Regions from separate parts of the Homo sapiens genome. Here region 2 is linked to region 1. Evidence: fine-mapped expression QTL. Tissue or cell type: atrial appendage. Region 1 holds a variant in brackets; the other region holds the start of a gene. All regions are shown on one strand. Distances are from middle to middle.

Region 1 (2,765 bases):
TTTAAAAATGAACAAAACCTTTGAGAAATAGGGATTATGATTTATAGGCATTCCTGAAATAAGAGAAGAAAAAAGTAATCAATCTGGAACACATATGTGGGGGAATCATTCAGGAAAATTTTCCTAACCTTGCTAGAGAGACCAAAGAAATCTGCATCCACATAAAAGAAATTCAGAGAACACCTACGAGGCACTATACAAGATTAATATCACCAAGGCATATACTCATGAGACTATCCAAGGTCAACACTAAAGAAAAAAATCTTAAAGCCAGCTAAATAAATGGGCCAAATTACCTATAAGGGAAACCCTATTGGACTAACAGCAGATATATCAGCAGAAATCTTACAAGCCAGAAAAGACTGGGAGCCTATTTTTAGTCTTCCAAAGCAAAACATAAGCCAGCTAAGAATTTTACATTCTACCAAACTAAGCTTGATAAACAAAGGAGAAATAGTCTTTCCAGATAAGCAAATGCTAAGAGAATTTGTCACCACTATACCAGTCCTATAAGAAATAATCAAAGAAGTTCTAAAGATGGAAACAAAAGGATGACACTTGCTACCATAAGAGTACACATAAATATGAAGTGTATAGGTCCTATAAAGCAAGCACAATTGAGAATACAAAGCAACCTTGAACAAGTTAACCTTGAACATAAACTGCCTAATGCTCCAGTTAAAGTATAGGTTGGCAAACTGGATGAAAAAACAAGACCATCTACTGCCTACGAGAAACCCACCTAATGTGTAAAGACACCCAGAAGCTCAAAGTAAAAGAACACGAAAAGATATCTCATCAAATAAAAAACAAAAGGGAACACAGGTTACTATTCTTATATCAGATAAAGCAGATTTTAAATCAAAAACAGTAAAAAAAAAAAGAAAGGCATTATATAATGATAAAATGTTTAATTCCAAAAGGTGGCTTAACTATCATATATATATATATATGCATATAACACCAGAGCATTCATATTTATAAAACAAATATTACTAGAACTAAGAAAGTAGATAGCAGCCATAAAGTAATAGTAGGGAACTTCAGTACTCTGCTGACAGCATGGACAGATCATTAAGGGAGAAAATTAACAAACTTTGGACGTAAGTGGAGCTCTTGACTGAATGGAGCTAATAGACATACACGGAACATACCACTCAACAAAGGCAGAATATACATTTTTCTCATCTGCTTATGTAACATTCTTTAAAATTGACCATATAATTTGCCA[T/A]AAAGCAAGTCCCAATAAATTCAAAAAAATCAAAATCATATCAAATGTCTTCTTAGACCACAGTGGAATAAAATTAGAGATCAATAGCAAGAGGAACTCTCAAAACCACACAAAGATACGGATACCTCCCAATGTGGGATCCAGCCACATACTGCGGGTGCGTTTGACCTGACAACAGATCTATACCTCTCTGAAATGGAGCTCCCAGAGGGAGGGGCAGGGCCAGGTTGCCATCTTTGCGGTTCCACAGTCTTCACTGGTGATACCTCCAGGTGCTGGAAAATTCGAGGCAACTAGGGGCTGAAATGGGCCCCTAGCATACCACAGCAGCCTTATGGAAAAGTGACCAGACTGTTATGTGGGTGCACATTCCCAAATCTCCTCACTGAGAAGGTCCTCCAGGCCTGGGTCTCCAGCCACCTTCTACCAGAGATATTGAGCCACTAACAACAGAGCAACCCCCTGGACAGAGCTTCCAGGGGCAACTGAAAGCCTCTCTGTTACTGCCTCTGCAGTGGAAGGAACTGCCCTTGCTACCATCAGACTAATGAAGAAGCAAAGACCCTAAATGCTTTATCCACACCTCCAGAAAGCTGAAGTTGACCCAAGGAGAGAAGGCCAATCCATCTCCCACAGGTCCCACACAGTTCACACTGCTTGTCACCAGATAGAGAACCCCTGGCTTGGGCCCAAACCACAGGTCACCTATCCTGGGTTGATTGCACTGAGCAATTGCTGACCTGCATCTGTCTTGGGCGGAGCCCACAGGAGACAAGCAAAATGTCCTTGGCCACAACCAATATTAAGGTCCCTTTCTCTGCACCACCAAGCTGGAGAAGGAATAACAACACTGAGATCTCCCCAGAGCTGCAGTAGGCAGCTCCAGAGTGCCAAGCCACAATCTACAGCCAGTACTTAAGAGGGAGAGAAACCCACACACTTTCAGAGCATTGAGAGAAAACATAGCTGTAACTTTGAGGAAACAAAGGGGAGCCACACAACCAAGCAAGAATCTACCAACTAACCAATAAGCTTAAGTGCTACCTACTGAATCATACCCCAAAGCTTTAACAATAAAAATACCTCACTAACATTCTCCCCTCTGAAACTAGAGACAAAAAGTAAGTTTCAAATAGAGACCCAGCACTAAGCCTTGCCCCAGTGAAAACATCTAGAAAATAAATCTATTGACTGTACTCAATCTACACTGCAGTTAAAGGAATACCCACATGCAGAGATGAGAAAGAACTATAGTAACTTAAATGGCCACAGTGTCATATGTCCTTTGAACAACAGCACCAGTTCTCCAATGAGAGTTCTTAACCAGGCCGAACTGGCTGGAATGGCAGAAATAGAATTAAGAATATGAATAGGAATGAAGATAATCAAGATTCAGGAGGATGACAAAACCAAATCCAAGGAAAACAAGAATCACAGTAAAACAATACAGGAGTTGAGGATGAAATAGCCAGTATAAAAAAGAATTTAGCAAATCTGGCAGAATTGAATAGCTGTGTACAAGAATTTCACAATG
Region 2 (2,765 bases), 420 kb after region 1:
TCCACATAAAACCCCTTGAACAGTACCTGACACAGAGTGAATAGTAAATCATAACACTTTGTTCACTGGGCAGAAAAAAAATGCTGCTAGCCCCCTGGATAACATTCTCTTCCTCTCTAGAATGGTGGTAGTATACTAGGTCCTATTGCACATATACACATTAGGAAGATACTTTTTACTAAAGTCACTTTGAATGAGAGTATTCTGGATTTAAGTGGTGCTGAAGTATATTGCATAGCAAAATCTGAGGGTAAGTAGGCATTATGATCAAAATTTCAAGTAGTAATAAATGTAAGTTGTAAACACATTTAAATCTCATTATGTCAGTTAAGGCATCTTTCAGGACTTGCAGCTCCCTTAATAACTAGATATTAAAAAGTCAATCAAACTCAGTGTTTCCTAGGGCACATATAAGGGCAGGAGAAATTCCCTTGCATAAATGAAAAACAACAAATGTGAATGCCAAAATGCAAAGCATTTGTGGAATCTTTAGGTTTTTCTTGACCATCCACCTTTCTATACAGCAATTCAATCATTTAGACAAATTTCCTTCAACAAATGATAGAAAAGAATACGAGGCTTTGAGTAAGATAAACAAGTCCATATATTAGACAGAGTCACTAGAAAGAGACCCCTTAGTAATCTTCCTTAACTGCAATTATCAGATGGGTTTTGCAAAGAATGCAAATTTATCTGTGAAAATTGGTGTATTCCTAGACTAATACTCATTATTTTAGTCTGGGAATCTGGAATAATAATACTTATGCTGGTAACTACCTTTGCTAAACTTAAGAACCATAAAAAGACACTTTCATATAACATGTGTGACTTTTTTTCTCTAGCAAGTTTTTTGCATTTTCATGTCTTTGTGAATTTTTAAGCCCATGTGCTTGGAAACTCTGGCTTCATCCCTGACATTCTACATTTCTGCTCTTCACAGACTCCTTTACCTGCTGGGCAGCCTTGTAGCTATCTCCGTGGCAAGGCAGGGCCTCTCCTGGCATGTAAACCTGCTAAGTGAATCCGCCCCTAAGGGCGTGTCAGTACCATTTCCTGGAGCAATGTCACAGGGTGGCTCCATTTTCCATTTGAGCTCAAATATTTTGCTGCTTCCTCTGTAGCTGCCAGACCTGCTCTTGCTGCTGCTCAGGTAGCTTTCTTCTCTTCCCGGCACCACTATTGGCAGAGGTTTTGATAAGCGGTTTCCACACGTGTGTCGTGTGTCTGTCTGCCTGCCTGACTGCCTGCTTGCCTGTCTTTTTTTTCCATTATATTTCTCTGTTTGTTCCTTAGGTAGAACATCTGGGAGGTCCCTTGCTGACCACTGGAAGAAGATGAGCTCGAGCTATTGGAGTGAGACGAGCAGCAGCAGCTGTGGAACCCAGCAGCTCCCAGAGGTGCTGCAGTGCCAGCCCCAGCATTACCACTGCTACCATCAGTCAAGCCAAGCCCAGCAGCCTCCAGAAAAAAATGTAGTGTATGAGCGAGTGAGGACCTACAGTGGGCCCATGAACAAGGTGGTGCAGGCCTTGGACCCCTTCAACTCACGGGAAGTGCTCTCCCCTCTCAAAACCACCTCCTCCTACCAAAATTTGGTTTGGAGCGACCATTCTCAGGTACAACAAAGAAAGCTATGCCAGACTAGTGGAGAAAGGCAATCTTCAACCTGATTTCTCTTCCTTTCTGCTTCTTTGCCTCTATTCCACAGGATATCTTTTGGTGGATTGCAGTTATATATGCCTTGGATAGTCACCCAAATTCATCTCTTGGCTGTTATTTCACTTACTAGTGTCTGTGGTTGTTTGTTTCCGGGTTTCACTGATTTTCATAATCTAACCATAGTATAGGAAGGCTCATTTTCTGTTTGATCTGACTGAAAGATCTGATCCAAGGAATCCCTTTGCCCCTACTGCAAAGCAGTTCTCAACTTGAGTACAGTAGATTTTTATTAGAACAAGTTCCTACTGATTAATTTCATATCAGAAGCAAACAGGTTTTTTTTGGTATCAAATATGGTGATACAGGTACTGTGGCATGTCTGAGTGATAAGCAATTATTTGTGCTCAGCAAATAGTATAGCTGCTCCAGGATAAGTGAGAGGTGCAGATGTCTGAATTGTCATATGTGTTTCATCTTCCAAGAATGACACACTTTTTATCGTACAGCCTAGGTGAATAATTTATGGAATACTTGTAGAAAGAGTACTGGAAGAGTTGATATAGGATTGAGGAAGGCAAGATGTAAGCAATTGTTACATGAAAGCTACAAAAGATGGAACTCTAAGACATCCCATAAAATGAAATACGTTTGTTTCTTAAGAGTTATTCTTAGCACCAATACCTGTGTTAATAACCTTCCCAATAAATACAAGGTAACCCTGCAAGACTGTATAAAATTAACAGCTTTATGTGTATTTTATCCTCTGACTCCTTTTACATTAAATTTGCATGTTTTAAGCTTTCTGGAAAATTCTGTCCAAACTGAAATTATGTTTTTAAGATACAAAAATCTCAAAAAGCAGTCATTGGGATATGATGCTATGTTACATTATTATTACCAATCAGGAGTAATACATATTATTTTTCCAAAACCCACAAATTTGAGTAGAATATAAAGTAACATTTCTCAACTGGTTGAGAAAAACTCCACTTATACTGAGGTCAAGGAGAAGAAAAATATAAAGGTCATAAATACCAGTTTGCATTAGTGATAAAAATAATGCAAATGTGCACTCCAATATTCATATTGAGATGCTAATGCAGAAC

Which allele goes with the higher level. Alleles are on the strand shown, and positions count from the first base shown. SD is a standard deviation of normalised expression in the study named.
With allele T in place of A in region 1, the expression in atrial appendage of the gene that starts at base 1,124 in region 2 is higher (moderate effect, 0.46 SD a copy in GTEx).

The links. PIP is the estimated chance that this variant, and not a neighbour inherited with it, causes the effect.
Region 2: POF1B starts here. The variant in region 1 is fine-mapped to the expression of POF1B in atrial appendage (GTEx, PIP above 0.99).

The regions. Positions count from the first base shown.
Region 1 is chrX:85,796,289-85,799,053 of GRCh38, reverse strand. No RefSeq gene overlaps it. Among named protein-coding and RNA genes, the nearest start is that of MIR1321, 38 kb to the left of the region's middle. The variant T/A (reference allele first, on the strand shown) is at 1,232.
Region 2 is chrX:85,378,024-85,380,788 of GRCh38, reverse strand. It overlaps POF1B (POF1B actin binding protein), which reads left to right and starts at 1,124. Exons shown (of 17, transcript NM_024921.4): 1 at 1,124-1,150; 2 at 1,294-1,616. The coding sequence starts at 1,335.